Linked DNA regions of Homo sapiens. The protein of the gene in region 1 interacts with the protein of each later gene in a pairwise test. Each region holds a gene or a part of one and is shown in the gene's direction. Other genes may lie near its edges. The genes, in order: RHOJ, PAK1, WAS, MEOX2 and ZNF426.

Region 1 (6,688 bases):
GAGGAAAAGTTTTTCAGGTGGGCAAAGGGGTCTGGGGAGGGCATAAAATTCTAGACAGGGAGACCAGGACATGCAAAGGCATCCTTTAAAGCATAGGGAGCAGATTGGCAACTGACGGGCCAAAGTTCACCCACAAATGTTTTCATTAGTCCAAACACATATTTTTATTGCAATTTAGTGGCCAACATTTAATAGTTTGGAAACACATTTCTAGCCTCTAAAAGAAATTCAGAAGGTCGAGCAACTCTAGCCCAGCATTTCCTCATCAACAGAAACTGTTAAACAGTCTCTTAGATTAAGCATGTATTCTTCAGTCTGCCACAATCCCCACCACTCCATATTATCCTATACTCAAGTAACACACTTTACATTATCCAGCCTTGAATTGGCATCTCTGCATTATAGTCTTCAAAGATCAGCAGCAAATCTGTCTGGCCTAGAAATGTTTTTCCTCTTTCACCAATTTGATCATAATGCTGACTTGTTGAGATGGCGGCTTTTCTCTTACAACCTGTTTGGTTCTTTTTCTTTTTCTTGGCTCTCTATTTGCCTTCTCTGTGTGCCTTTGCTAATTCTCAAATGAGGAATACAGAACTACTCTGCTACTAGCCATTTCTTTAGATACGAGCTTACTCTGTTTATTCCACTAACATCTTCTCTTCTTTTCTCTCCATTTACAGGACATGCCTTCCTTCTTCTTCCCTTCTCTCATCACCTTTACTATATCCGTAACAGCTTTGCCCATTTATTCATTAATTTTGCTCTTTCAGCCACAATTTCATGACATTTGCTAGAGACAGCCCAAAAGAGTAGTTAAGACTTTGGCTCAGGAGGCAGACAAATTCGAATCTCTGCCATTTTCTTAGTTGTGTGGCCATAAGGGAGGTTACTTAGCCTCTCTGGGTATCAGTTTCCTGAGCTGTGAAATGAGGATGGTGACAGATTTTTCCTTGTAAAGTTCTTGTGACAATGAAATTAGCTCATGTACCACAAGGTCCAGCTCAGCAAACTATAGTTGCTGTTAAATCCATGAGCCCTCTCAGACATGTCTACAGCTGGGAAGATCTCTTTGCCTTTATCCCTTCCAGTTACTTTCTATCTTATTCTATAACTTGTCCTGCCCCAACTAGAACAACATGGAAGAAGTACTAGGTTTTCTTTTACTTGATTAGTCATTACGGTTTTTTTTTTTTTTTCTTATCACTCTTGTATCTTCTGTACATCGCTGATAAATGTCCCTGCTTTTGAGATAATAAGTTTTAGCTATTATAAAACAATAAGAAAAGTGTTTTTTCAGTTTACACCCTCAATCTCTACTTTTTTCTTGAAAATAAGTCATTTGGGTAGAACACATTCCAGTTTGCTTGCATGTGTATCTAAACAAGGAGGCTTGAATCCTGAACCCTCCCAGATGGCTTCTAAATACTTGACTGTGTAGGTCATTTTGCTCCAAGGAGCAGATGAAGTTGCTGCTGTAATAAGGGCCACATTTCCTTGAGACAATTTTTCATTTCACATCTTTGAGGACACAGATCATTTTTTTTAGCAATCTGGCTGTGCTTTTTCCTTGAACCGGGATGAATTCTTCTCCGACCCTCATAGCACTTGACACATGGTAACAATACCTACCTCATAACTGGATTGTTTCTCACACGTGTTTCCCAAATGACACCAATAATCTGATGACTACTTTTTCTATCAGTACAACATAATGTCATATTAACTCAGTTACACAATAATGCCTTTATCTGCTATTTCATTATCTTCAGAAATGTCTGAATTGGAAGAGACAAGCTTGGGCTCCTCCCGCTCCATCGAAAGGCAAAGCCTGACATGCTGTCAGCTGCACACTGGGGGCAGGAGGATGGGGAGTGCCCTGCCCCTCCTGCAGGACTCCAGGTGTGAGTGAGCTCAGCCCAGCTGTCCTGGAATTCCAGGCAGAATCAATCCTAGGCTTGGGATCCTTAGTGGAGAGGTATTCCAGATAGAAAGGTGCTACAGCAGTTTCTAGGTATTTTCCAGACAAGTGCCACCACGTTACAGTCAAGTCATTCAGAATCATTCAGTTGGCAACGCTGTTGCCATTAGATTAATGTGCTTTTCACATGTGTTTGAATCAAGCATTGAACACAGTCCCAAAATGCAATAGAAGGCATTTCATTATGTTATTAGGAAAATTTTCTCTGCGCTTTATTCCTCTCTTGTATCTAACTGTTTTTAATTATTTAAAAAAGTTATTTTCTAATCTGAAAACCAAACCATGGTCAAAATGAAAGCCATAAAATAGATTTTCAACATCCAACATCGTTTTCTTTTGGTATTTTCCCTTGGCTCATTCAGTAACCATTCTTGTCAGGAAAAAAATGAAAAATGCATAATCTCTGTCGGAGAGTTTAGGAAATAGTGTCTGGGCCCAACCAAAACCACTTTATTTGATGGTTAGTTTTCATATTTGTGGCCTTTGAAATAAGTGGACAATCTCATTTCATTAACTGTCAACTTGACCAGCTTCTTGCAGAGCTGAGTGATAGGGGTCACAGTTACTGCCACAGAGCAAGGAAATGAACATGTATCAAGAGACCCAGATTCTGGGTCTATTTCTTTCACTTTCTAGGTGAGTGCCCATAAGCAATTCATTTTACCTCTCTGGGGTTATTCCCGCTCTGTTCTAAGCTAAACCACAAGTTCACTTAGTCCACACATTGCAAACTGGCTGGCTGCTGCCAAATATATCCCACATCAGTGTCTTGCTTGGCCCATGGTAAATAGTTCATAAACTGGTAAATATTAAATAAAAAATCCAAATGTCCAACTCCTCTTGAAAAATACAAAAATGGGCAATAGTAAACCAACATTACCACTTGGAAGCTGATAAGACTGCACACCCTAGAGGGGGCATGTGCTTTACAGCCCACCATAGTCCCCTCCTCTCCCTATTGTCTTGCGCCAGCCCCACTTTATCATTTACATAAGCTATTGGGCATAATAGGCCTATGATTTTGCTACCTTGTTTTAGCCATTTGTCTGCTGTAGTTTCCAGGAACTCGCCATTTAGCCAACCTCTTCTGAATCTGCTTTAATTTTTCAAAGTGATTCTTAAAATGCGAATCAAAAACTAAAGTCATTTCTCCAGATGTCCTTAATAGTAAAAGGCCAACATCACATCATTGACTCTTCCTGAGCTTATGAACAAATAAAACCGCAGGTCTCCTTCACAAGAAGCTGACTGCTAAATATGGTCTGCCCTGGTCTGTGATTTTTAAATGAGAATCTATAGTTCTGGCCTGAATTTCTATATTTCTCATGAGAGGTTTGTGATTATCAAACACACCATAGTATGAAATCATCAGAATATTTAAAATGAAGCCCTATGCAAGTATGAAATACCTTATCATTTAAATATATAGACTGTACACTGACAGGATGTCTCTGGCATTAAATGTCTTTTATGATTATCGTTACATGTTTTATTGTTATTGTTACATGTTTTAGTGGGTTTTTTTTTTAACTTTTTAAAAAATATGCCTTTTAAAGTGTGTTAAGGCTGGCTGCAGTGGCTCATGCCTGTAATCCCAGCATTTTTGGAGGCTGAGGCGGGCGCATCACATGAGGTCAGGAGTTCAAGACCAGACTGGCCAACATGGGAAAACCCCGTCTCTACTAAAAATACAAAAACTAACCCGGCTTGGTGGCACACGCCTGTAATCCCAGCTACTTGAGACGCTGAGGCAGGAGAATCACTTGAGCCCAGGAGGCAGAGGTTGCAGAGTTAAGATGGTGCCACTGCACTCCAGCCTGGGCAACAAGAGCGAAATCCATCTCAAAAATAAATAAATAAAGTATGTTAAAACTAAATAATAATGCCAATTGGATATTACCTTGTTGAGGGATACCTTAAAAGAGGTACATTTTAATCAAGAATGACCTATAAAACCATATCATTCACTCTCTTTCTATCTGCTTTATCAACCAAGCTGACACTTTGCCTTTTATCATACCAAAGAAGATACATTTCACTTGTACATGATTTACACATTCTGCCTACAAATGAGAGGATATGAAAAACAAGATCATGCACCCCTGTTCTTCACAAAACATATTTAAATTATATCATTGGTTTTGAATTGTCTCCTAATTTTTTAGATCTTTGCATTTTTTATGTTCTTAGGAATAAATGGCTATGGGTCAATTTTAGGATTTACTGCTTTCCAGAAGTAATCCACAACCATTTATTGCAAATAAAGGAAAGTAAAAAATACAAAAATACAAAAAAAAAAAAATAGGATAGCAGATACAAATTGAAATGGAAAAAAAAAAAAAAAGACAAACATAATCCAAACCACCCCACAGGCTGTTTGTAGGACAGGCAGAAGTAAGTGCTTGTCTGGGCAGTGAGTTGATACCACTGTGCTTTTCTCTCTTTTTTATCTCTCATGCCTTTCTCTCTTTTGTGTTTAAGATCGGAGCACAGTGCTACTTGGAATGTTCAGCTCTGACTCAGAAAGGTCTCAAAGCGGTTTTTGATGAAGCAATCCTCACCATTTTCCACCCCAAGAAAAAGAAGAAACGCTGTTCTGAGGGTCACAGCTGCTGTTCAATTATCTGAGGTTGTCTGGGACCTGCCTCCACCCCATCCAGGGATGAGAATGGCAGCCAATCTCTGTGGCCAAGCTCCAGCCAAAAAGGAGGGCACGACCAGAAAGGAACTCCCTTTGCACGGAGGCTTGCCCCATCACCCTCTGAGCCCTCCCAACACAGCACACTAGTCAGCCCACTGCCACGACCTCCCTGCCAGCCAGAAGCATCCGTACTGCACGCTGTCTGAGAATGCTGGGCCTGGATTGCAGACAGTGCCGCTGCTGATCGCATCAAAAACAAAGTCAAAGGCCATCTCACATTTTACAAATCCCCAGCTCATGAACGTGAAGCTGATAGGAAATCACCCCAGGGAACCCGAAAAAGAAACTTGATTCCTCTATTGCTGGCCTTACTTGATGTCTTTTATAAAACTTGGGACTACAATACTAACCTTTTTTTCTGAATCTGCTGTTCTACCCATGTGTCTCACATTCATTTGTATTATTTCAAGAAATGTACTAATTTCCAGTTCACTCAGGCCTTACTAATCCATACCAAATTAGCCTAAAGACAAGGCATTTTATATTCATTTCTATTTTCAGCATGTTTCTACCAAAGCTATTAGAACCAACACGTACCTCTGAATGCCCGATTATAAGAAGACATGAGAAGACTTTAAAAGTTTTGGAAATTTACAGAGCCATGATTTTTGAACCTAATTGAAAGAAAACCATCTGAATTGTTGCAGGTCCACATTTTTGCCAAAGATACACTCTATAGATGCTTAGTAGTGGCCTGATTTTTTTCCATGTATTGCCACGACAAACTAAAAATGAACTGTGTTTAAGAATGTAGTATTTCTGTTTTTCATCCAAGTTGATTGGGGGAAGAATATGGCAGGATCCATCTTTTACAGTATTTTGTATTCAGTAAAGTGGACATTCCTGCTCCTCCCTTCCCCCATTGCATGCCCTCTTCCTCCCTTGATTTCACTTTCTCTCATGCCCGGATCCTTTTATTCTCCCCAGTTATAACCCAGTTATAAAAGAAAGATCTGAGCATAAAGATACGTGTTTAAAAATAACTAAAAGTAAAGGAAAGTGCCTTAATTTTTCTATTTGCTTCAACTGAAAGTGCTTCTCAGCTCGCCCCATGTAAGTTCTCATTCCATGTAAATGACATTTTCCAGTTACAACTGGTACTGAGATTTTGCCTCTCTCTTTCCTTACTCATCCTCCCAAATGTCTTTGTGGGAGCCATATCAGTGGATACCAAGCTCTGTATCCATTTGTCCCCTGCCCTCCACAATGTGTGACATAGAACAGGGACTTTGGCCCTGGGAAAGCAAAAGCTCCCAGTAAGGAATCCTGTGCCCAATGATGTAAAACAATTCCAAACATCCAGGAATTTTTGTATCATAGAGCGAATTACTTCCTATCTTTTCATTAGAGGCTATGAGGACTTCTAATTAGTCTTAGTTGCTTATAAGTGCCCTGGAATCACCCAGGTAGGCACTTAATTTTTTTTTCAGTTGCATGAGCAAAGTGCTTCTTAGTAGTGTGAAATTACAACAACTTTAAGACTTTCCAGATTCAAGCTCCCACTGTTGGAAAAAGCCAGCCTTTCTAATCTCTTCTGCTACTGGAATAAGCACTTAAGAATTGCGTGATAGCCAGGCACCGTGGCTCATGCCTGTAATCCCAACACTTAGGGAGGCTGAGGTGGGTGGGCCGCTTGAGCTCAGGAGTTCAAGACCAGCCTGGGTAATATAGTGAGATCCTGTGTCTCTATAAAAAAATTAAAAATTAGTCAGTTGTAGTGACACATACCTGTAGTCCCAGCTACTCAGGAGGCTGAGGTGGAAGGATCACTTGAGCCCAGAAGGTAAGGCTGCAGTGAGCTGTGACTGTGCCACTACACTCCAGCCTGAGTGACAGAGAAAGAACCTGTCAAAAAAAAAAAAAAAACAACCTACATTTCAAGTACTATTTCCCTTCTCTCCCATCTAATTGCTAAAGATTTTCTTTCATACGCACACACTCCAGTGACTGGAAAAACGGGAGTTTTCAGTCAAAGCTTGACATTTAGAGAAAACAAGGACTTTCTGCCT
Region 2 (6,688 bases), on another chromosome or scaffold:
AGGCACTCAAGTATTTGTTGAATGAATAATGTAAGATGATTTAATTCTATGTATTGCCAGCTGCGACATTGGGGTTTTACTCAAGAACCGTTCTCAGAATGAATAGGAATCATGGTCCAATGTGCAAATCCAAGGGGATCCTAACATTTTTGGGGGATTCATTTTAGGTTGAGCTTTTCCCTTTATGTGTCTCCAACCAAAGCCTGCAAGAATTTTTAGCCTAGTCTTTTGTTCGTTTGTTTGTTTTAACCACCACCTGAAAACTGCTGTTGCAATATTCCAAGCCAGGATTGTTTCTTTTGAATTTGCAAGTTGGTTTTGCAAGTCTAAATAAGCACTCTTAACTTTTGAGTCTTTTAACTTAAAACTGTCTCTTCCTGGTCTCCTGTGGTTTTTGTCTTTCTCTGGTGATACTTAAAGCTATATAGGGCCTGTTTGACTCCACACAAAGGTTTCTCTTCCTTGTCAAGCTCTTAAAATGCTTTGTTTCTTTCACTTTCTTATTAGCCCTAAGATACCATGCCCAGTTTTCTCCTTTCCTAGCTTCCTTCTGGGAGAGTGGCTTCAATTATTCATCCGTTTACTATAAAATTATGAGTCCTTCTCCACCATGTGCCAGACCCTGTGCTGGGCAGGATGTTCAGCTATATACAAGAGTGCAGCCCAAGTCTTTAAGGAGCTAGAGATAATATGACATGATAAGTGCTGAAATGAAGAGATGAAATAGAGGGATGAAAAAAGGTGGTATATGATCATAAAGGGGGGGAGAAAGCTGCCTTTCTATTTGTTTCCCTCAGTTTAGGAATAATTTGTCAAACAAGCATCATTTTGACAGGCAGACTTTTAAAAAATTTTAAGAGGTCATGGGCTTTGTTGGGGAAAACTAAAACAAAAATCAAGGTGGAATCAGCAGTTGCCAATTTGAGACATTAATTCTGTTGTTGCTGGTTTTAATGAATTTTCTGATCCCTCTCCATGTTATTTTTCTAAATAATAACCAGAAAGTGGGAGAAAAATATTTCTTTTTGGCATAGTAAAGAGACAAGTTTAAGGTTATCAAAAGAATACATCTCACTACAGTTTATTGTTTATTTTTGAAAAGCGATAAACAATATGCATCTAAAAACGAGGCTTTTGACTGTTTATGATAAAGAAATGATAAATGTTTGGAGTGATGAATATGCTAATTATCCTGATTTGATTATTACGAATTATATACATCTCAAAATATCATAAATATGTACAATTATTACATATCAACTAAAAATAAAAGGAAAAATGCATTGATTCAAAATTAATAGTCAGTATATTCAAACTTGAAAATAAAAAATTTAAAAACATTCTCCCACACCAGTGTTTGCTCCTTCTGGGTCATTTTCTATGCCCATTATTAAAAAAAAAAAAAAAGTCTCTTCACAGATGTTTTAATTTCTAAGGGGTAATGTTGTAATTTGTAGTGGGTGAAAATGAAACCCTGGAAAAGTTAGGAGACCTTCTTTAGTGTCTATGTTACTGCATGACCTTGTAGAAGTAATTTTTATCTCTGTGTTTTGTCCCAACTGTAAAATGGGGATAGTAATAGTTGCTACGACTAGTTTACAGGATCATGAAGCAATTAAAATAATGACTATAAAGGAATCTTTGAAAAGTATAATTTGCTTGTTAGTTGTTAGGTGGTGGTAAGCTTACTAAAAATGGCTTATGTTACTGAATACCTGTTCTGTACCAGGCCCTATATGAGATGTTTAACATGTTCTTTTTAACCCTCAGAATAACCTTATGAGATGATTGCTGGTATCTCTGTATCATAGGTGAGGAAACCTGAGAGTCATACTAGTAAAGGGAGCTTATTTAAGGTTTTGCTGCAAGTAAGTGGCAGACCAACAATTCTAGTCCATGTGCACCTGACTCCAGCAGCTATGTGCTATTTTCAGTACAGAGGCTGCTTTTAATGTTTCTGCACAGAGGATATAGGAATGTTTTGCAAGTAAATATATTGCAGTGAGAGTTAAAGTTTCCATTTGGTATGTTTTTTTTGTGTGTGTATTAGAAGGCTTGGTGAAGACAGATTTACATTCGTTTACATTTATCATTCATACAGGAAAAATAACATCTTTCCTGGATGTTATTTTGTTCAATCTTCGTAACAGCCCTATGAGATAGGTATTCCCATTTTACGAGTTAGCAGGCTGAGGATCATATTAATAGAAGTCTTGGCTTGCTCAGAGGCACATCATTAATGAATGCCTGAATATTGATTTTAAACCACATTTTAAAATTCTAAGTGTAGTACTTTACTTTGCCACTATAACATATTGCCTTTTAAACTCTATCAAACTAAATTTTGGGGCACTAGACACATTCTTTTAAATTGGTTCCTAATCTCTTTAGCTTCTTCTCCCTAAGAAAACCCTGACTGAAGTCCACAGTTTGAACTAGAAAGGATAATTGCTGATAAAACTCTATGTCAGATGGTCATGATGTTGCAGACTTAGAAGATAATACCTCTTTACTGAAGCTGCCAGATCAGGCTTTATCCAGTATTTGGAATCACTTGTGCCTGAATATTTCCCTGTGCCATCGTAAATTTATTAACTTAATGTGCTACATTTTTCTACCCTTTTTGTAAGCCTTTTCTTTCATGAATATCTTCCTCTTCTCTCCCATTCTTTTAGTTTTTGAGATGGGGAAAGTCATGTATATGCTAGGCTTCTCCGGATTATCCCTTCTTGAGGAATAGTGTAGTAGTAAGTCTAGAAAGAACCAGAGGTTCATTCATCCCTCATGAGTTTTCGTGGTATTGATTGACTGTAGAATTCATCTAATTCTTAAGTCCATTATGTCTTGGCTTTTGTTCCTGGAGTCAGAGTTAGGTAATTTGCATGCAGGATTGGGAAATCCATTCTTGTTTATGGGCTGCTTTCTTTTATTACTTTTCTACTTCCAGCCTTCTCCAATATCCCTTTCCCTTTCAGACTGTTAAGTACTAACTGAGGCTGGCAAGAGCATTTTCTAATTTATAGAATCTGCCTTTTGAATCTTTTGGGATGGCAAATGACAATGACAGTATATGCATGGCTTCCACCCTCATCTGCCTGCCTATATCTTTAAGGTCCAGCTTTCCTTATTTCCTCCTGGATTCCCACAAAGCTAAGATTGATGTCTTCCTCACTGGTGGAACCCTTGATTTGTGTATTACTGCACTTACCAAGGGAGGGTTTAAGGAAGAGCACAAAATTTGAAGTTAGACAAAGAGCTACTTGGACACTTATTTAAATCTCTATTTGTTCATTTGAAAGAAATAATACCTAACTTACAGAATTCTTGTGAAGATTAATAATATATGTAAAAGTGAATTGTAAGATACTGAGCTATATAGATGTTAGGTAGAGTAGTTTGTAATTTTATGACTATGATTGTGTGTAGCAGTGGTTTTAATTTCGGCTATGCACTTGAATTACTTGTGAAGATGTAAAGAGTTGCCTTGGCATCTCTATTTTGAAAGGTTTATAGGTGATTCTGATATGCAAAGTTGAGAAGCACTGCCTTATATTAACAATGTTTTGCATAAATGTCTTATGTAAGTATTATATGAAAAGTAATATTTTATTGCCATTTAAAGTTCATTCATTTGCTAAATACATATTATGCATCAGGCATTGTCATAGGTTCTGAATAAACAGATGAATCATAGCCTCTACCCTTGGGTTTATAGTTTCCGGGAGAAACAGACATGTGCATAGACAATTACACTACATTGAGACAAAAAATGACAAAAATATGGAGATAAGTGCAAGTGCCATGTGAACACAGAGGAAGGGCATCTGCTGCACTTGAAATGGGGGTGGCCTGGCAAGCATTCTTAAAGGAGGTGACATCTAAGATGGGTTCTGAAAAATGATCAGGGGTTAACGAAGCACAGTCAGGGAGGGGTGAGAAGAAAGGGGAGATGATGGACCCTCTTGAAAGAGAGAGCAATATGTGAGCAGAAGATTTGAGAGCCTGTTTGGGGAGCCCTGTGTAGTTTAGTATGCTTAGAAGATAGGGTGTAAAGTGGGGAGGCGTGAGAGCAGAGAGGAGGCAGGGCCCAGATGATGAAGGGCCTTTTGTATAATGTACAAAATACTTTTACTGATATTATCTGACTTTATTCTTTGGACAATCCCCTGGGTTAGCTAGGACAGGTGTTGTTTTATATTCATTTGATAGAAGAAAACACAAAGAGGTTAATTGACTTGCTGAGGCTATACAGCACAGCTAAGATCTGAAGCCAGGTTCTTATGATTGTTTAGTTCATCATGCTTTTTCTATTACACCATAGCCGTCTTAGACTTTTGCGGTGTGGTAGGGAATCAGGTAAGCTCTGTGGATATATGCACAACAATTTGGAAGCTGTAATGTGCTAGACTGATGTTGGCTAACTCATTTTACAGATGAGGAAATTTAGGAGCAGAGACATCAAGCTGTCATTTGAAGACTTTTTTTTTTTTTTGAGATGGAGTCTTGCTCTGTCGCCCAGGCTGGAGTGCAGTGATGCGATGTCGGCTCACCGCAAGCTCTGCCTCCCGGGTTCACGCCATTCCCCTGCCTCAGCCTCCCAAGTAGCTGGGACCACAGGTGCGTGCCACCATGCCCGGCTAATTTTTTGTATTTTTAGTAGAGACAGGGTTTCACCGTGTTAGCCAGGATGGTCTCAATCTCCTGACCTTGTGATCTGCCCGCTTCTGCCTCCCAAAGTGCTGGGATTACAGGCGTGAGCCACCTCGCCCGGCCTTGAAGACATTTTTAAAAATTATTACTGTGTAACCACAGCAAGTCACTTAACCGTCCTGAGACTCAGTTTTCCTTAGCTGTCATATAAATGTGTTGAATTTGATGCCAACTTCTTTGCTTGAATATTTCGACAGTGATTCTTAACCTTCTCACCTACTCCCTGCCCTCACCCTTTCTCTGTGATACACTGGGATGTAGTCCATCAGTAACAGTATTTCACTATGGAAATAGTTCCCAATGGGCTACAGGAACAAAATGTAAATTGCCAGTTTTGGGGATGGGTAAAGAGGGACTTGGTATAGTTGGAGGGGCTCTTGGTTCTCCAATTACCTGTTAGAGAATTACTATTAATATTTTATTTATTTATTTTTTTGAGACAGGGTCTTGCTCTGTCATCCAGGTTGGAGTACAGTAGCTCCATCATAGCTCACTGCAGTGCTGCCCTCCCGGGCTCAAGCAATCGTCTCACTTTAGTCTCCGAGTAGCTGGGACCACAGGGGCATGCTACTAAGCCCAGCTAATTTTTGTATTTTTTGTAGAGACAGGGTTTTGCCGTGTTGCCCAGGCTGGACTCAAGTGAACTGCCCGCCTCAGCCTCCCAACGTGCTGGAATTACAGGCATGAGCCACTTTGCCCGGCCAAGAATTACTATTTTATAACATTCCCTCCCACTTATTTTCTCATATGGAATTATCTCACCAGTCCAGAGTCTGAGATTTTTTTGGTATCCAGGATAGATTTTGCTTAATTTAATAAATTACATATGTAATTTGTAAAGTAACTTAAAAAAAAATAAAGAACCAGGTGAGCAAAATGAGAAAGCCCATTGTGATAGACTTGAAAAGTCCAAGTTTCCTGGACTTTCTAGAGATTATATATAGGATTATATATATAATTTTTGTGCTTTACTGTTTTCAAAACCCTTTTATATAGAGTCTCATTTAACTTAATTCTGTTCTTTAGCCATCATATTTTTATAAATGAACAGAAGTTAAGTGGCATGATTATGTAGCTGGGAAGTTACAAACTGGAATCTTTAATTCATATTTTCTGTCTCCAAATCTGGTCACCTGTTCCTGATCATTTGGGTGCTGCCCTGACCAGTGGCACTTTTTAAAAAATTGTAGGTTCCTAGGAGAATGGTAAAATATATTTATAGTTCCCTCTAACTCTTTCAAAAAATCGTTTTTTTACTATCCATTGCCACTTGCCGGATAATTGACTTAGTTGACTATGTGGTAAAGGTTCCAGGACAGTTAGGAATGGCTGCTGAGTATATTCTTCACACACACACAGACACACACACAGACACACACACACACACACACACACTCTTTCATGTATGTACCAATCCAATACAGCTGGTCCCTGACTTACAGGGGTTCAACTTAATGATTTTTCGACTTTATGATGGTGTAAAAGCAATATGCATTCAGTAGAAACCATACTTGGAATACCCATCCAATCACTTTCAGTGCAGTATTGAATAAATTACATGAGATATTCATCACTTTATTAAAAAATAGACTCTGTGTTAGATGATTTTGCATAACTGTAGGTGAACGTAAGTGTTCTGAGTATGTTTAAGGTTGGGTAGGCTGAGCTACGATGTTTGGTATGTTAGGTGTATTAAATGCATTTTTGACTTAAAGTATTTCAGTGTAAGTTGGGTTTATCAGGTCGTAACCTAATCATAAGTCAAGGAGCATCTGTACAGCTCTATAGTGCTTCTATTTATTCCTTAATTAGACTACACATATTTATTGATTTCTTCCTGTGTGCCAAGCATTGTACTTAGTACTAAGGATACACTCATAAATAATACAGACATGGTCCTTGTCCTTGCTCTTACAAAGATTACATTCCAGAGGGTAATACAGAGAAAAGTAAGTAGATATACAAGTGGACAGTTGCA
Region 3 (5,753 bases), on another chromosome or scaffold:
AGAGCTCAGAGGGACTGGTGGGGGCCCTGATGCACGTGATGCAGAAGAGAAGCAGAGCCATCCACTCCTCCGGTGAGCTGATCCTGCCGGGGCCTCAAACCTGGCTCCCAGGGCTAGCACTGGCCTCAAAACAATCCCAGCAGTCACCACCAATAGTGACATCAGCCCCATCTGTTTGACAGCATTAACATGAATCTTGTGTCAGCCTCGTTTTTGACAATGTTAACATTAAGTCATTATGTGACAATAATATAATTAACTCCAACTTTGACAGTAATATTAACATTAATGCCAGGGTGTGTCCACAATATTAATGTCATTCCCACATGTTCAGTACTATTAACATCAGCTGGCCGGCGCGGTGGCTCATGCCTGTAATCCAGGAACTTTGGGAGGCTAAGGCAGGAGGATCACTTGAGCCCAGGAGTTCGAGACCAGCCTGGGCAATATAGTGAGACCTCGTTTCCATAAAAACTAAATTCAAAAAAAGTAGTCAAGCATAGTGGTGTGTGCCTGTGGTCCCAGCTACTTGGGAGGCTGAGGTGGGAGGATTGCTTGACCCTGGGAGGTCAAGGCAGCAGTGATCCATGATTGTGCCACTGCACTCCAGCCTGGGTGACAGAGATCCTATCTCAAAAAAAAAAAAAATTAACCCATTATGTGATGACAATATTATGAAGAACACTATTGTTGACAATATTAATTTTAATTCCATGTATTAACAGATTTACATTAATTCATTATGACGTAACCTAATCTAATCTTTTAAAAAATTTTTTTGAAACAGGGTCTCGCTCTGTGTCCCAGGCTGGAGTACAGTGGTGCAATCATGGCTCAGTGCAGCCTCAACCTCCCAGGCTCAAGCGATCCTCCCGCCTCAGCTCCCAAAGTAGCTGGGACTACAGGCGTGTGCCACCATACCTGGCTAATTTTTGGTGTTTTTTTGGTAGTGATGAGCTCTCACTACCAAGCTCTCACTACTCTCATGTTGCCCAGGCTGCTCTGCAACTCCAGGGCTCAAGCGATCTGCCCCGCCTCAGCCTCCCAGAGTGCTGGGATTACAGGCATGAGCCACCAGGCCTGGCTGTTAACCTAATCTTTTTATAATAATGTTACTATTACTCTCTTAATCTGTCAGCAATACTGTCACTAATCCATTATATGATGCAAATATTAGTATCAACCTACTATAGGAACTTCATCTTTCGACAATGATTTTTTTTTTCTTTTGAGACGGAGTCTTGCTCTGTCACCCAGGCTGGAGTGCAGTGGCGCGATCTTGGCTAACTGCAGACTCTGCCTCCTGGGTTCAAGCGATTCTCCTGCCTCAGCCTTCCGAGTAGCTGGGACTACAGGCACGCCACTACGCCCAGCTAATTTTGATGTTATTGTCATTAACCCCATTATGTGTCAAAAATATTAGCGTTAACCAGACAGGAAGCAATAATATATTATCACACCTTTGCTAATATTATTTAAATTCACCCTATTATGTGATAAATAGGTTAACATTAACCCTTTGTTTGACAATATCTCGACTAACCACATTTTTGACAGCATAAACTTCAACTCCAACTAGAACTCAGACCCCAACTATAATCCCTTTCTTGTCCCAAATGGAAACTCTAACTTGCCCTCCTCTAGCATGAGACCTCAGAACCCCAGGGTCCAGTCCTCACCTCCCAGGCCCTATGAAGCCCCCCACCAACCTCCCAGGGCATCTTATCTTTCTCTTTCCCTCCAGACGAAGGGGAGGACCAGGCTGGCGATGAAGATGAAGATGATGAATGGGATGACTGAGTGGCTGAGTTACTTGCTGCCCTGTGCTCCTCCCCGCAGGACATGGCTCCCCCTCCACCTGCTCTGTGCCCACCCTCCACTCTCCTCTTCCAGGCCCCCAACCCCCCATTTCTTCCCCACCAACCCCTCCAATGCTGTTATCCCTGCCTGGTCCTCACACTCACCCAACAATCCCAAGGCCCTTTTTATACAAAAATTCTCAGTTCTCTTCACTCAAGGATTTTTAAAGAAAAATAAAAGAATTGTCTTTCTGTCTCTCTATAAATCTCAGTCTGTTTACATTCCAAATGTGGGAATGGGGTCCCTTTCCCCCAAAGTCCCTTTTATTCATTTATCCCATTTTATTTATTTAGCCTTACATGTATATATTCATTCATTCATTTATTCCCTCAGTCATTTAGCCTGTATTTCTTTGTTTCCTTCTGCCCCTCTGTCTTTCAACATTTATTGTCAGGTACTATTTTAGGGGCTAGGAATCAAGAAGTGGGAAAAAAAACAGACAAGAATTCCTGCCCTTAGGGGGTGAAATCCACATTCTAGGGGAAGAGACAGACAAGAAACAAGAAATCAAATAGAAATAAAAGATAGCTGCAGATCATGATAAATGCTGTGGAGTGGTAAGGCAGAGATACAGATGAAACAACATTCAGATGGAGCAGTCAGGGATGGTCACTTGGAGTAGGTGATGGTGGTGCTGGACCTAAAGAGAGAGAAATGTCGGCCCAGTTAATATTTGGGGAAAAGGGGTTCCAGGCTGAGGGAGCAGCCAGTGCAAAGGCCCTGAGGTGAGAAAAGGCTTGGCATGAGGCCAGATGTCATGCATTTAATTATTTTTTAAAAAAATAATTCAATCGGCTGGGTGCAGTGGCTCATGCCTGTAATTCCAGCACTTTGGGAGGCCGAGGTGGGCGGATCACCTGAGGTCAGGAGTTCGAGACCAGCCTGGGCAACATGGTGAAACCCTGTCTCTACTAAAAAATACAAAAATTAGCTGGGTATGGTGGTGCACACCTGTAATCCCAGCTCCTAATGGGGGCTGAGGCAGGAGAACTGCTTGAACCCGGGAGGCAGAGGTTGCAGTGAGCTGAGATCGTGCCACTGCACTCTAGCCTGGGCAACAGAGCGAGACTCCGTCTCAAAAAAAAAAAATCATTCAATCAACACAATACTAGATTAAGAGCAGCATACTCAATGAGCAGACCTCCCCATTCTCCATGCCCATAACAACTCACACACCAGGATCTTGATGGGCAGGATCCCCCTCTCATTTTTAAAATTTGGCTCTGCCCAGTTCCCAGTTCAAATCAAGCACTGGCCAATTGCAATGGAAAAGGCAAAGACTTAATTATCAGACAGATCTGCTCTAGAACCCGGGAAAGATGCCTCACCTCTGAGCTTTGGTTTCCGCATCTATACAATGGAGGTAACTGATTTCCAACGGGGATCCCACTGAGTCACCTCTCTGCCTCCTCAGGACTTGCTCTCCCAGAAACAAAGGAGTAACTCAAAAGCGTCCTTGGCGTTTACAGCTATTTCCAAGGGCATAATTAGAAACTGTTGCACAGCAAAGCCTAGAATTGAGCTCCCTGCCCCTTCCGATTTCTGAAATCTGGTGAATTCGAGATCTCAGACATCCTACCTTTAGAGGAGGAGAAAAAGAGAAAGGTAGTGGGGAGGAAGATAAAGGTGAGGGAGACTCCAGAGAGGGCAGGCTTCTTCAGTCTGCAAGAGCAACGGAAGAATTTCTAGGTGGAAAGGGGAACTCCCCCAAGCTAGAGAAGGAGGGAGTCTCAGGTTTCCTTTAATTCATTATTCTTTACACCGCAACACCACTCCCCACCCCACCCTGACCAGGTCCCCAGATGGGCACTGAGTCTAGGAAGGATCCATCAGCATCATTTATCCCTACTCCCAGTCCCCCACAGAAATCTTAGAAATCCAGTGTTCTGGTTGGCCGGGCGCGGTGGCTCACGCCTGTAATCCCAGCACTTCGGGAGGCCGAGATGGGCGGATCATGAAGTCAAGAAATAGAGACCATCCTGGCTAACATGGTGAAACCTCATCTCTACTAAAAATACAAAAAATTAGCCGGGCGTGGTGGCACATGCCTGTAGTCCCAGCTACTCAGGAGGCTGAGACAGGGGAATTGCTTGAACCCGAGAGGCAGAGTTGTGGTGAGCTGAGATCACGCTACTACACTCCAGCCTGGGCAACAGAGCGAGACTCCGTCTCAAAAAAAAAATGTGGTATACACAATGGAATACTATTCGGCCATAAAAAACAATGAAATCATGTCTTTTGCAGCAACATGAATGAAACTGAAGGCCATTAATTTGAGTGAAACAACTCAGAAACAGAAAGACAAATACTGAATCTTTTCACTTGTAAGTGGGAGCTAAATAATGTGTACACATGGACATAGCATGTGGAATTATAAACAACAGAAACTTGGAAGGGTGGGGAGGTGGGAAGGAAGTAGATGATGAGGAAATTACTTAACGAGTACAATGTGCATTATTCAGGCTATGGATACAGTAAAATGCCTGACTTCACCACTACACAATGTATCCGTGTAACAAAATTACACTTGTGGCCTGGCACTGTGGCTCATGCCTGCAATCCCAGCACTTTGGGAGGCCAATGCACATTATTCAGTTGATGGATACAGTAAAATGCCTGACTTCACCACTACACAACGTATCCATGTAAAAAAATTACACTTGTGGCCTGGCGCTGTGGCTCATGCCTGTAATCCTAGCACTTTGGGAGGCCAATGTACATTATTCAGATGATGGATACAGTAAAATGCCTGACTTCACCACTACACAATGTATCTGTGTAACAAAATTACACTTGTGGCCTGGCATGGTGGCTCATGTCTGTAATCCGAGCACTTTGGGAGACCAAGGCAGGTGGATCACTGGAGGCCAGGAGTTTGAGACCTGCCTGGCCAACGTGGTGAAACCCCATCATCTCTACTAAAAATACAAAAATTAGCCAGGTGTGGTGGCACACGCCTGTAATCCCACCTACTCAGGAGGCAGAGGCAGGAAAATCGCTTGAACCCGGGAGGCAGAGGTTGCAGTGAACCGAAATCACGCCACTGCACTCCAGCCTGGGTGACAGAGTGAGACTCTGTCTCAAAAAAAAAATATTATATTTGTACCCAATAAATTTATATGAAACAATTAAATGCTTCTGAGATCTGGCTTAATGGTTGCTCAGCCTGCATTCTGGTTCCACATGTAGGTCTGCTTGTGAAAACTCATTACAGTGTTCACCCCTGGTCTGTGTACCCTTCTGTATTTGTGTTACACTCCAATCTGAGGTTTACATTACAATAGGTCAAACCTGTGAATAAAACCTTATATTGGCTCCGGCACTGGGCAACGCAGTAATCATTAAATTAATGCTGAATGAACAGACAACTGGCTGGGAGTGGGACACGGTAGCAATAAGATGGCCTCTTAACTTTTGAGGTCTCCTGAAAAAGTGCTAGTCCAGAATGATTCACTTTCCAGATGAGCAGGAGACACCCACCCCAAGGTCACTTACTGCAGGTTTTACAGACCAGTTTAAGAAACTGCCTAAGATCAAGTAATTTAGTAAATGGCAGAGCCTGGATATGAGTCCAGGTAGTCAGGCTCCAGAATCCAGACTTTTGCCCACTACTTTATAGTGTTTGGGGGCACTACTGGCGACAGACCCTTTTGTCTCCCTCTCAGATCCAGACAGGCAGAGGTCCTGTCTTAAATCACTCTTGTGGGTTGGACAGGTCTCCTGGACACCCGGGAGTGGGAGAGCCCTGCTGCCCGAGGAGACTGGGGGTACATGAGGATGAGCACCTGACTCTGCTCGAGAAGGAGTAAGGGAGGGAAGGGGATGCATGGTGGGACCTTCGCTCCTGTCTGTCCCCTCAGGGCAAGCTGGGGCTGACGGAACCTCAGACCAGC
Region 4 (6,688 bases), on another chromosome or scaffold:
GCGCTGATTTCAGTGGGGATAATTTGAGCAGCCATGCAAAAGGGGAACCTTCCTGACCTCTGGTGCTTGAAGGCACAACGTGCCGAATAAATTGTAGCAATCCAGAGAAACTCAAAGTTTCCAGACAAGTTTTCAAAGCTCTTACCTACCTGTATTTTTATAAAATTGTTAAAAGATACTTTAAAATTAAGAGACTTGTGAGTTTTCTTTCGTGGGTATAGTGCAACCTGGATTAAATACTTTTGGAAGGTGTCATTTGTTTAATATAATATTTGCATATTTTTCTTCCTCTGTGGAATTGGGTTAATAATAGTCCTAGAAGGTAATCCCATATGTTGGTTTGAAGGATTGGAAAAATGTTGATCGTGTGTAAAGCTTTAGGTAAGATGCCACATAAATGAAAATGATTGGCCGCATATTTAATATTCCTTCACCATTCACAGCAATATCAATTGTTCTTCAGCGTTACTATAGGATGGATTCTTCTCTCACGGTCTCAAAAGCTAACTTTTATTTTCCAAGGTCAGGGGGTGAACTTTTAATGTTCCATCACAAATTAGTTTTTATAAGAAAATTACCAGTAGTGTCACTGATATTTAATGTATTTTCCTAACTATAAGTGAAACTCTCTTTAGATAGTGAGTTGAAAGGTTAATCATAGCAAAAAGGTTTCAATTTTTATTAGAAAAACAGTCGATTTTAGAATGCAGTGACAATTTCATAAACTGAACATTTGATATCAGTGTAACTTTGGAAGCAGATCCCAGTTCGGGTTGATGAGCGTACTCTTGCAATTCCCATAAGCTCTTACGGTTCATTTTATTTCTTGCAATGAGAAACCTACATGATAGATTGTTCTTCATGCTTCCTGAACTGAGCCATTGCCCTTAAGTTTCTCAGGGCAAACAATTTTCATACAAGCACATGTTATTTTGTTTGGGGAAAACTGAGAAAACGGAATTCAATAACTGATTCCCTTAATTTATTTTAATAATTTTTTTAAAAAATGGAATAATTTAACAAAACTAATTTATCTCTCCCCCCCAACTTAGTGGGAAATAACCATTTAACAAAATTAAATTCATTTCTACATTTTGAAGCTGATAATGAGGGTACTGGAAAAACAAGCAAATATAAGTGTTTGTGTCAGCTACATAAATTATTAACAGATTAAAACTTCAGTGGAAAGTACAATTAGTCATCACCAAGGATAAAAATACTGGGGATTTAGAATGAGCTTTTCTTTCCTTTGATATGTTGAAGAAATATTGACTAAAAGGAAAATCACAATAGTTTCTGTTTAAATCTATGTACACTTATTGAAAATAAAATTTTATTTGCCAATTTCAGCTGAAGGTATATTTGTCAGATATTGAGATAGATTTAAATTAAAGATATCTTTCTCGTGTAACAATTGCATTAGGTGTTCCATAAATTATCTTCAAAGATATTTTATTTCATAGACATCTTGATCTAGCACAAACTAAAACAATATTGAAAATGATTATGATCCTGGTATGCTATTAATACGTATATCTCTCATTGCTTATAGCACATTTTAGTATTTCAATATTTCTAAAATATAAAATTGAAGTGATTTCGGAACTCCTGAAATTTAAAATTGTATTAGATAAAAATGTCATCCTATATAGTGAGATCATTTGTATTTTGTTAGGTAGTTTATAATTACTTTGCATTTATGGTTGAGAGAAAATTCAGTACATAAATCCAGGGTAAAGTCAGGACCAAAATTCTGTATCCCTGCATCTAATACTTAGACTGTATGTGTATGTGCTAATTCTAATTACCGTGTTAAATTCTAATAGAATTTTAAGCACCAGAAAGTATTGAAAAACAGCTTAAATATTTATAAACCTTACAATTTTATTCATAGTAACGATTTAAAACTATAATACGTAAGCTTCTCTAGCATATATTTTATGCACTTTCCCTCCACAAATGCACATGGACACACACATATGCAAACTCTAGCAGCTTCATGTTTTGGAAGCAAATATTTATGGACTTTAGGCTTCCTTTATGTAAGTTTATTGACAATTGAAAATAACCAAATTTAATAGAAAAACACACCATTATATTTTATATGTGTTAAACATTTTTGTAACTTTGAACCTGCTACGCTTTCCAGCATTATTAGCAAAGCCAACATCTGCCACGTCTTCAAAGGGACTCTTAAAAATCAAAACTTTACAACTGCTGAAAAAAATCACTACAAAGCAGGTGATTCTGAAAAATGTCTATAAATAGTGTGAATTGCTTGGCTTCAATTACATTTGGTTGCTCTTTGAGCAATCTAGTAGTAGGAATAAACTGCCCAGTTTTAGTTAAAATAACTAAAATTAATTCATTGATCGAACTTTAGCTTTTGTGCATGGTTATACAGTGTACATATCTAGATATTTTCTATTCAAATTTATGATACATATTTTATAAAAAATAGAAATTACATCAAAAAAGAAAAGAGCGATTTGGGGAGGTAGACTTTACTAGGTTTTGAATCATATTAGATTCTTGTAAAATTACAAATATTTTATTTATAGCTACTATGTCATAAAACCTTTGCTGTCAAATTATGTCTGTCTATATGCTTGACTATGCAGAATGACTAGCAAATATTACATTTAATAAGTTGGAACTTAAACTCAGAGTAATACCTTATCAACCTCATTCAGTATGATATTGTAATATTTCCAAGATATTTCAATCATTGTGTTTTCTGAAAGGAATAAATTAGTGTTATTATTCATTTCTGTGTTACTGGATTGTGGCTTTTCAGCATTTGCTTTAGAATTTAAAAAATAATATACTGGATCTTGAAGATTAAAGTGAAGTATTGAACAAATCAAATGGAGTACAAAAAAAAACTTCCATTCTTTATCTTGGACTGGTAGACTAATTTTAGGTGTGAACATTTAAAAATGGTAATCTGACATAAAAAATTCTAAGTATCATTGACCTACATGAGGGCTCTAAAATGTGATCTAAAATAATCACACTCAAGTTAAAAGCAACAATTCCTTTAGAATTAAAATGCTTTATTGTTGAACATTAGCAATGAATGGAAGGAAGAATGCAAATAAAAGTAGGAATAGTTTCCAATTCTGTGTAAATTTCTTCATTTATAGTTCATTTTAAAAGAAAAATCATAAATGCAAGGCATGGTATTGCACAAACTTTCACCGGGCTTAGAAATCCAGAACTTAGTATTTAAAGTTTTAATCTTTGTTTATGGTAATTATCAATAGAAACCTTTACAATGACATCTTATAAGCTGATCTTTACTAATAAACTGAAAAAACAGTACTTCAGTCATTACCCCATTCTCCCTCTGTGTTTCAAAACATAGACCGTTCATTATAACTCTGGAATTTAAGTTGTAATATTTATAATAAAATCTAAACATCCTAAGAACTTAATTTTAAGCAAAAATGAAATATCAGAAAATGTCAATCCTTTCTCTTAGATTCTGAGAAATTTGGGAGGTGAATTCCATATGTAATGAAATAATTACATTTTTTTTTGCACTTAAGAAATGTAAATCTATAGATGAATTAATAGCTGAATTATGTAAAACATCACCATATATAAGCCCACTACATGTACTTAGCCTGATAATGCTGCCTTGCTTGCGAAATTTTATTCATTTAGTGTTTTTATAATGGCAGCTTGACACACACAACCTAATATGAAGGTTTTTTAGATTTTAATTTCAAATGAGAAAAACCAATATAATACAGCAATATATTTTAGTTTTGAACTGTATTCACCTCAGGAATTTATTTCTAAATTTTCAGAGCAAATCTCTTTTCCAAGCACTGCTATGAGGGCTGCAAATATCTTTGAGCGATAAATACTAAGGATGCAGAAATATTAGAAAATAAATTACAGGTAGGAATTTCTTAAATAATATCTGTTGAATTAATAGTTGTGGATTATTTATCTCACCCAAATTTTCTTTATTTTTCTCACTTTTTTTTTTGATAAATGAAACATTTTGTGCAGGAAGATATATAAGCATTTCCCCCCTTGATTGTAATAATAAAAAGAGAAGGCTTAATTCTCAACTGGCCAGTTACATTGTATTTCCTGGCTTATAGTATTGGTAAATGATTTCAGTGGTTAAAATCAAAAGCAAAAAAATAAAATAAAACACAAACTAAGGCCAAAGTCCACAGATTAAAAATTGAAGTAGATGTGATTTATTTCCTATTTAGCATATTTAAGAAACAAGACACATTTTGTAGTCACAATTTGTTTCTACATATCATGTGCTTTAGATGTTAATATGGTTTACTGACATACATGTTTTGTAAAGATTGTAAATATAATGAGGCACTAACATTTTGCCTACTTTCCTTAGGATGCTCTCATGACTATTTCTTTTACTAGCGTGTTGAACTGAACCCCCAAGTAGAAAAGGAGTAACGGTGTAAAGTAAAGTTAGTTGCAAAACTCTCTACATTACTCCTAAATCACAGTCATCAGTGAGATTCAAAATCCCATTGGAGAAAACCTCGCAGAATATTTTATGTGTTTTAATGTAGTAAAACTTAGAATGGTCAAGAACATATAGGGCTCAGCCTACAATTTGCGTTAGAGGCAGAATTAATCTAAATCTGATGCCCATTTCTCTAACAGTTCTTCCCGTTTTACTTACATTATAAAAATATTGAATTTTTTAAAGAATGTTGTACTAGATAGTATTTTATGATACAAAATAATCAATAATGTATCTATTGATCCATTTGTGCTCATCTCAGATGTTGTTTTTATGTTTCAGAATAAGTATTTTCATTTAAAATCTCTTGACATTATTTATTACCAAATTAACAGAAAGTTACATGGTAAGTGTATGATCGAATGGGTTATTAATTTTCATGGGTCATGAGTGGGTTTTTAATTTTCCTCTATATTTGAAATTTTTGATATATAATTTCCGGAATAATAAGTAGCTCATTATTCCTGAAGCTTTCATTTATAATGTTACTTTGTGTACAGAAATATAATATTTCTAAATTTATATATGTTACTCACTACTAATTGTGCACTGTATTTTTAAATATTGGTTTTCACAGTGTTATGAAAATAATTTACATTTTTTTGGTTTCTTACATCACCATATGCACAAGAATGATCAGGTAGAATCCGTACTGTATCTATACATTTTTGGAAAGGGTTTGTATGAAAGATAGAAAAACCCTTTCAAAAATAATCCCTTGTTTTATCAATAGAATTAGAAATTAATAAACTGGATCATTAACTTGTATGATAATATTGTTATTTTATTTTTAAAATTTCCATTTATTTAAATGTTTAATAATTCTAAAATGTTTGTGTACCTTGATGACAATTCTTATGTCCTTACAATGTGTACTTTTATTGCAAATATAACATATTTTTACTAGGTAGTAACTCAGTGGTAAAAACTTTAGGGTACTGATTATAGCTCTAAATTCAAAAGCTGTTGCTCTTCAAAATTTTGTAGAATCAATTCAATGTGAATGTTTCAAATGTATTTAAGTATTCTGCTGTTTGTGTTCATAAGCTTTCTTTCTAAGATGTTAGACGTATGTTTCTTAAAGCTTGCATAGGCTACATTGATTAAAATTATGATTATAAGCTGCTTACTTTCATAGTTTTTTGTTTTTATTGTAGTCTAGTAGAGAGGACAATGGCAAGGAAAGGATAAAAGGGAGGGTGCTGAATTAACTAGGACATGGAAGCTATACTTAAAACACACGTTAAAAGAAGGCGTTTACTTTATATATGTATATACATATATAGGTATATGCACACTCACACCCACACATATATATGCATGCATTACTGTAACTCCAAATTTAATTTCCTGATAATAGTAAATCTGAATTAGAGCATCCTTATTAAATGCATAATATGATTATAAATGTTCCAATTACAAAATTAAATATTAAGCTTGAAGCATATATAGTTTTGTGAAGAGTCCAGCAGGCTTAAGCTGGCAATCAATGATAGTTATAAAAGTCCCTGCAGTTTTTGTTTTCTTTTGTTTTTCCTCTTTATTTAGCTCATTATTCTTCACACACTTCAAGAGAATCCCATAATGCTACAAGGAAAAAACAAATTCGCAGTTATCTTACGTGACTGTGGGCAAGAAAATGACTAAGGTGAAATCATCTGTCAGGCTCCGCAAAACCTAGAGGAGGGTCCAGCTTAGGTTGGCAGATGCCAGTAGAATTTTAAAGGCCTAGAATTTTACTCTTTGAAAATATAGCCTTAAATTTTTGCCAGAAATGACACCCAAATGAAAACTTATTTTTGCAAAGTGATAGTTATTTGCAAATGCAGTAGTGAAATATATTCAGAGTCTGTTGAGGTAGCTTGTCCACTGTCTGGACTGCACAGTAAACATTTGGATGGTTATTCTTAGCCACCCAAAAAACTAGCAAACTAAACTGAGGTGTATTCTTATTAGTTGAAAAGATTAAATGGGCATGCCTCTTATCAAATTAACAATGAATGCAAAGCAAATTTTGCAAATCATTGATTTATGTTGGTAGGTAACACAAACAGGAAACTATTCAGAAAAATAAATATGTGTTATCCGAAACGTAATGGGGACTAGCTTGGTTTTGTAGAACAACAGCAATTTAGCAAATAACTTTCACATTTAAAGAACCATATAAAT
Region 5 (6,149 bases), on another chromosome or scaffold:
AAGTTAATTGTTTAGATATACGCTCTTTTTTCAGAAATTTCCTACTTTCATTCCCTGATTCTCTCTATTCACTATCAGTTTTAATTTTCATAGCATCAATTTGTAATAAACGATCGAAAAGTTTTACCCCATGTCCTTGTCTTGGCCAATTTTTCCCCCTTTGGATCATTTACATCAAAACCAAATTTTTGATATAGCCCAAATCCCCAAATGTCTTTCTGCTTTTTCTTGCCATGTTTAATTTGAAACAAATAGAAATAAGCCATATTGTTTTGAACTCTTTGCATTTCTTTCTCCAAATCCTTTCATTTGTTCTTGTTGTGGTTCACTCTGTTTGTTGCCAAGGCTGGAGTGCAGTGGTGTGATCTGAGCTCCTTACAACCTCTGCCTCCTGGATTCAAGAGATTCTCCAGCCTGAGCCCCGTGAGTAGCTGGGATTGCAGGTGCTCACCACCACACCCAGCTAGCTTTTGAATTTTTAGTAGAGGTGGGGTTTTGCCATGTTGGCCAGGCTGGTCTCAAACTCCTGACCTCAAGTGATCCACCTGCCTTAGCCTCCCAAAGTGCTGGGATTACAGGCATGAGCCACTGTGCCTAGCTTGAGTCCTTTTATTTGTTTGTCTGTTTTATTTCAGGATGGGAAATGCGACTTGAAACCCAGTGGTCTATACTTCAGCAGGACTTTTTGAGGGGTCAGACATCCATTGGGATACAATTGGTAAGATTTGCATAGGATATTTTTTATTTTCCACCCTCAGAGAAAATCAGGAATTCTGTTATGGGAAGTCAGCAAAAATAAGAGATATTTGAGAGAAGTTGCATACACATGAGAGGGAGCAAAGAATTTAGGGATGCTCCAATTGTGAAACTTGTTTCTTTGGAGCTTTCACACATTCCCACAAGTGTAACTAGACGTTGAGTTTTGTTTTGGTGTTTTTTTGAAACGAGATACTGCTCTGTCACCCAGGCTGGAGTGCAGTGGTGCAATCATGGCTCAGTATAGTCTTGACCTCCTGGGCTCAGGCGATCCTCCCACCTCAGCCTCCCTTGGTAGCTGGGACTACAGGCATGCACCACCACACCCAGCTAATTCTTCAAAATTTTGTGGAGACAGGGTCTTACTGTGTTTCCCAGGCTAGTCTCAAACTCCTGTGCTCAAGTGATCCTCTGCCTCAGTTTACAAAAGTGCTGGGAGTACAGGCATGAGCCACCACATCTGGCTTAGACTATGAATTTTTTTTTTTTGGTCGAGACAAGGTCTTGCTGTGTCACCCAGGCTGGATTGCAGTGGCACAAACATGGCTCACTGAAGCCTTGACCCCTTGGCTCAAGTGATCCTCCCACCTCAGCCTCCTATGTGGTTGGGACTACAGGAACACACCACCATGCCCAGCTAATTTTTTGATATTTTTTATAGAGATGGAGTTTTGCCATGTTGCCCAGGCTGGTCTCTAATTCCTGGGTTCAAATGATCCACCCACCTTTGCCTCCCAAAATGCTGGGATTACAAATGTGAGCTACTGCACCCATCTAGACATTGAATTCTACAGAAATCTGTTATTATTATTATTATTATTATTTTGAGACGGAGTCTCGCTTTGTTGCCCAGGCTAGAGTGCAGTGGTGTGATCTTGGGTCACTGCAACCTCCGCCTCCCAGGTTCAAGCGATTCTTGTGTCTCAGCCTCCCAAGTAGCTGGGATTACAGGCATGTGCCACCAAGCCCAGCTAATTTTTGTATTTTTAGTAGAGACAGGGTTTCACCATGTTGGCCATGCTGGTCTTGAACTCCTGACCTCAGGTGATCTGCCCCCCATCGGACTCCCAAAGTGCTGGGATTACAGGCATGAGACACCATGCCTAGCCAAGATTAAAGTAGATGGCACAACATTCTAGAATAAGAGTTAAGTCATACCACTTAAAATAAATCTACAGGGAAGGACCTGAATGCATGTAATAAAAATGGCATCAATTATAATCACCATTATAATGTTTCTAGCTTCAGATGGGTATGTTCTGTTAATATGTTTGAGAAAAATCCTTAAATCATCATCATCCCTTCAACAGGAAGGAAAACACAATGGAAGGGAACTCTGTGACTGTGAGCAATGTGGAGAAGTCTTCAGTGAACACTCATGCCTTAAGACGCACGTGAGAACTCAAAGTACAGGGAACACTCATGACTGTAATCAGTATGGAAAAGATTTCCTTACCCTGTGTGAGAAAACCTCTACTGGTGAGAAACTTTCTGAGTTTAATCAGAGTGAAAAAATCTTCAGCCTGACACCAAATATTGTATACCAGAGAACTAGCACACAAGAAAAGTCATTTGAATGTAGTCACTGTGGAAAATCCTTCATTAATGAGTCATACCTTCAGGCACATATGAGAACTCACAATGGAGAAAAACTCTACGAATGGAGGAATTATGGGCCAGGTTTTATTGACTCTACAAGCCTTTCTGTGCTTATAGAAACCCTCAATGCAAAAAAGCCCTACAAATGTAAGGAATGTGGAAAAGGCTATAGATACCCAGCCTACCTCAGTATTCACATGCGAACCCACACTGGGGAGAAACCATATGAATGTAAGGAATGTGGGAAAGCCTTCAATTATTCCAACTCATTTCAGATACATGGAAGAACTCACACTGGAGAGAAACCCTATGTATGTAAGGAATGTGGGAAAGCCTTCACTCAGTACTCGGGCCTTAGTATGCATGTACGATCTCACAGTGGAGACAAGCCCTATGAATGTAAGGAATGTGGGAAATCCTTCCTTACATCCTCACGCCTTATTCAACATATAAGAACTCACACTGGAGAGAAGCCTTTTGTATGTGTTGAATGTGGGAAAGCCTTTGCAGTTTCCTCAAATCTTAGTGGACATTTGAGAACTCACACTGAAGAGAAGGCCTGTGAGTGTAAGATATGTGGGAAAGTATTTGGGTATCCCTCATGTCTTAATAATCACATGCGAACGCACAGTGCCCAGAAACCATACACCTGTAAGGAATGTGGGAAGGCTTTTAACTATTCCACCCACCTTAAAATTCACATGCGAATCCACACTGGAGAAAAACCCTATGAGTGTAAACAATGTGGAAAGGCCTTCAGTCATTCCAGTTCATTTCAAATACATGAAAGGACTCACACTGGAGAGAAACCCTATGAATGCAAGGAGTGTGGGAAAGCCTTCACGTGTTCCAGTTCCTTTAGAATTCATGAAAAAACTCACACAGAAGAGAAACCCTATAAATGTCAGCAATGCGGGAAAGCTTACAGTCATCCCCGTTCACTTCGAAGACATGAACAAATTCACTAGTGAGAAACTGTCCATGTAATAAATGTGGGAAAGCTCTCATTTGTTCCAGTTCACTTTAAAGACATGAATGAACTCACTCTGGAGAGAAGAAGCTGCATGAAAATTACTTAATTCCTGTAATCCCAGCATTTTGAGAGGCTGAGGTGGGTGGATCACTTGAGGTCAGGAGTTTGAGACCACCCTGGCCAACATGGTGAAACCTTGTCTCTACTGAAAATACAAAAAATTTAGCCAGGTGTGGTGGGCACCTGTAATCCCAGCTACTTGGGAGGCTGAGGCAAGTGAATCACTTGAACCCAGGAAGCAGAGGTTGCAGTGAGCAGAGATCATGCCACTGCACTCCAGCCTGGGCGATGGAGTGAGACTCCATCTCAAAAAAAAAAAAAAAAGAAAATTATTTGATTAAATTGAGTCTGTTAGAGTACATCCCTAATCCAATATGATTGGTGTCCCTATAAGAAGAGAAAGACACAACTGAGACAACAAATAGAAGATGATGTGAAGTCATCAGATGATGGCCATCTGCAAGCCAAAGACAGAGCACTGGGACAGATCCTTCTATCAAAGCCACCAACCCTGCTGGCACCTTCATCTTGGGCTTCCAGAACTTTGAACAAATAAAATTCTCTTGTTTGAGCCACCCAGTCTGTGGTATTTTGTTGTGGTGGCTCTAGCAAGTGAATACAGTAAGCAATAAGCAAAAACGTTTATAGATTGTCCAAAAGCCTTAATATTCACATGCAAAGCCACACTGGAGAGAAACTATATGAATGTAAGACGTGGGAGAGCCTTCATTGAGTCTTCAGTCCTTTCTACATACAGGAGAAATCACATAGGAGAGAAATTGTATGAATGTAAGGAGCATGAAAAAGCCTGTGAATGTTCACTATATTTTAATATTCACATGCAAGTTGTCTGGTCGTAGACCATGTGAAAATAGAGGAGAAAAAAGGAAAGAAAGTTTCTTTTACTGTGAACGCAAGGAATGTGACCCCATACACCATACTGGAACTTGGAGTGGACTGAAATCCCATTAGGATTGTGGAAAAGCTTACATTAATGTTTTCTACCTTCTAGAAGGTGTAAGAAGTCGAACTGGAGAGAAGCCTTTTACCTGTAATGCATGTAGGAAGCCTTACATTAATTCCACAGAATTTTTTTTACACATGTAAAATTACCTCAGAACCCTGGGAAGGTAAGGAATATGGTATAACCTTTAAATATTTCACATGCCATAATAAGTACATGAATTCTGATAATACTGTACCGTTTCTTGAGTAGTGTTAGTACCTTATACTATCAAAATAATCCTAAATCCTCCCTCTCAGACCTTCCATCATTACTATATTTCACTTTTATGCCTATAAACACACACAAATTAGCATATGTAATCTAATACATTGTAGCTATTTTTCAGAAGTTATCAGATCAATTAAGTATTAGAAAAATAAACATTTTTATTTTACCTTCACTTCTTCCTTCTATGCTCAAAGTTGGATGTAATTCTTATACTTGATCCTCAATACTTAAAGCATTTCCCCCCCTCTGGCTTCTATGAAAATTTTTTGTTATCTTTGATATTCTGTTATTTTTAAATGATATGCCTAGGTATAGGTTTTTGGTGCTCGTCCTTCTTGGTGTTTGCTTAGCCTCCTGGATTTGCGTTTTGGTGTCTGAGTTAATTTTGAGAAATTCTGTCATTGTTTCCCTTTTTTTTTCTTTCCATCTGGTATTTCCTTTATATGTAGGATACATCTTTTGTAGTTATCCCACAGTTCTTATATCTTGTTTTTTTATTCTTCTCTTTGCTTTTCAGGTGTGGATGTTTCTGCTGATATATTCTCAAGCTCTTTAGTTGGCTGTTTCTTGGCCAATAATAAGCCTACCAAAGACATTCTTCATTTCTGTTACACTGTCTTCAATTTCTAGCATTTCTTTGTGGTTCTTAGAATTTCCATCTCTGTGTTTACACTGCCTGTCTGTTCTTGGATGCTGTCTGCTTTATCCAGTAGAACCCATGGCATATCAATCATAATTGTTTTAAATTCCCAGTCTGATAATTTCAGCAATCCTGCTATATCTGGTTCTGGTTCTTACTCTTTCTCTTTAAACTAACTTTTGCCTTTTAGTATGCTTGTAATTTTTCCTTAGCTGGACATGGCATACTGGATAAGAGGAAATGCTGTAAGCAGGCCTCTAGTAATCATGATAAGCTGTGGGGAGAGGGGCAGCATTCTATTGTCCAGGGATTAGATGTCAGTCTTGCAGTGAGTCTGTGCTTCTGCACTGTGAACTTCAGTTTTTCCCACCCTTTAGTTGGGTCAGGATGTATAGAGTTGGCTGGAGTTGGATATTTCCCTTCCTCCAGGTCACTGAAGCTCTGACTAAAACTCCAGGTGTGGTGGCTTATGCCTGTAATACCAGCACTTTGGGAGGCCAAGGCAGGTGGATCACCTGAGGTTGGGAGTTCATGACCAGCCTGAATTGCTTGAATCCAGGAGGTGGAGGTCACAGTGAGCCGAGATTGTGATACTGCACTCCAGCCTGGGAAACAGTGAGACACTGTCTCAAAAAAATAAATAAATAAATAAAAGGCTAGGCGCAGTGGCTCAACCCTGTAATCCCAGCACTTTGGGAGGCAGAGGTGGGTGGATCATGAGGTCAGGAGATCGAGACCATCCTGGCCAACATGGTGAAACCCCGTCTCTACTAAAAATACAAAAAAATTAGCTGGGTGTGGTGGCGGGCACCTGTAGTCCCAGCTACTTGGGAGGCTGAGGCAGGAGAATGGTGTGAACCCAGGAGGTGGAGCTTGCAGTGAGCCGA

The links.
Region 2: the proteins of RHOJ (region 1) and PAK1 interact in binary tests that used the Homo sapiens proteins (3 or more experiments, as listed by UniProt).
Region 3: the proteins of RHOJ (region 1) and WAS interact in a two-hybrid assay, tested with the Homo sapiens proteins (one study listed by BioGRID).
Region 4: the proteins of RHOJ (region 1) and MEOX2 interact in binary tests that used the Homo sapiens proteins (3 or more experiments, as listed by UniProt).
Region 5: the proteins of RHOJ (region 1) and ZNF426 interact in binary tests that used the Homo sapiens proteins (3 or more experiments, as listed by UniProt).

The regions. Positions count from the first base shown.
Region 1 is NC_000014.9:63,286,419-63,293,106, forward strand, and holds part of RHOJ (rho-related GTP-binding protein RhoJ), read left to right. Parts: intron 1-1,769; coding exon of another isoform or gene 1,770-1,832; exon of another isoform or gene 1,833-1,899; intron 1,900-4,459; coding exon 4,460-4,606; 3' UTR 4,607-6,688.
Region 2 is NC_000011.10:77,464,407-77,471,094, reverse strand, and holds part of PAK1 (serine/threonine-protein kinase PAK 1), read left to right. Parts: intron 1-6,688. UniProt on the Homo sapiens protein: Protein kinase involved in intracellular signaling pathways downstream of integrins and receptor-type kinases that plays an important role in cytoskeleton dynamics, in cell adhesion, migration, proliferation, apoptosis, mitosis, and in vesicle-mediated transport processes.
Region 3 is NC_000023.11:48,689,363-48,695,115, forward strand, and holds the end of WAS (actin nucleation-promoting factor WAS), read left to right. Parts: coding exon 1-72; intron 73-787; coding exon of another isoform or gene 788-1,107; exon of another isoform or gene 1,108-1,744; coding exon 1,745-1,800; 3' UTR 1,801-2,065; downstream 2,066-5,753. UniProt on the Homo sapiens protein: Effector protein for Rho-type GTPases that regulates actin filament reorganization via its interaction with the Arp2/3 complex. Important for efficient actin polymerization. Possible regulator of lymphocyte and platelet function.
Region 4 is NC_000007.14:15,678,332-15,685,019, reverse strand, and holds part of MEOX2 (homeobox protein MOX-2), read left to right. Parts: intron 1-3,039; exon of another isoform or gene 3,040-6,106; intron 6,107-6,688. UniProt on the Homo sapiens protein: Mesodermal transcription factor that plays a key role in somitogenesis and somitogenesis and limb muscle differentiation. Required during limb development for normal appendicular muscle formation and for the normal regulation of myogenic genes.
Region 5 is NC_000019.10:9,525,554-9,531,702, reverse strand, and holds part of ZNF426 (zinc finger protein 426), read left to right. Parts: intron 1-635; coding exon 636-718; intron 719-2,066; coding exon 2,067-3,323; 3' UTR 3,324-6,149. UniProt on the Homo sapiens protein: May be involved in transcriptional regulation.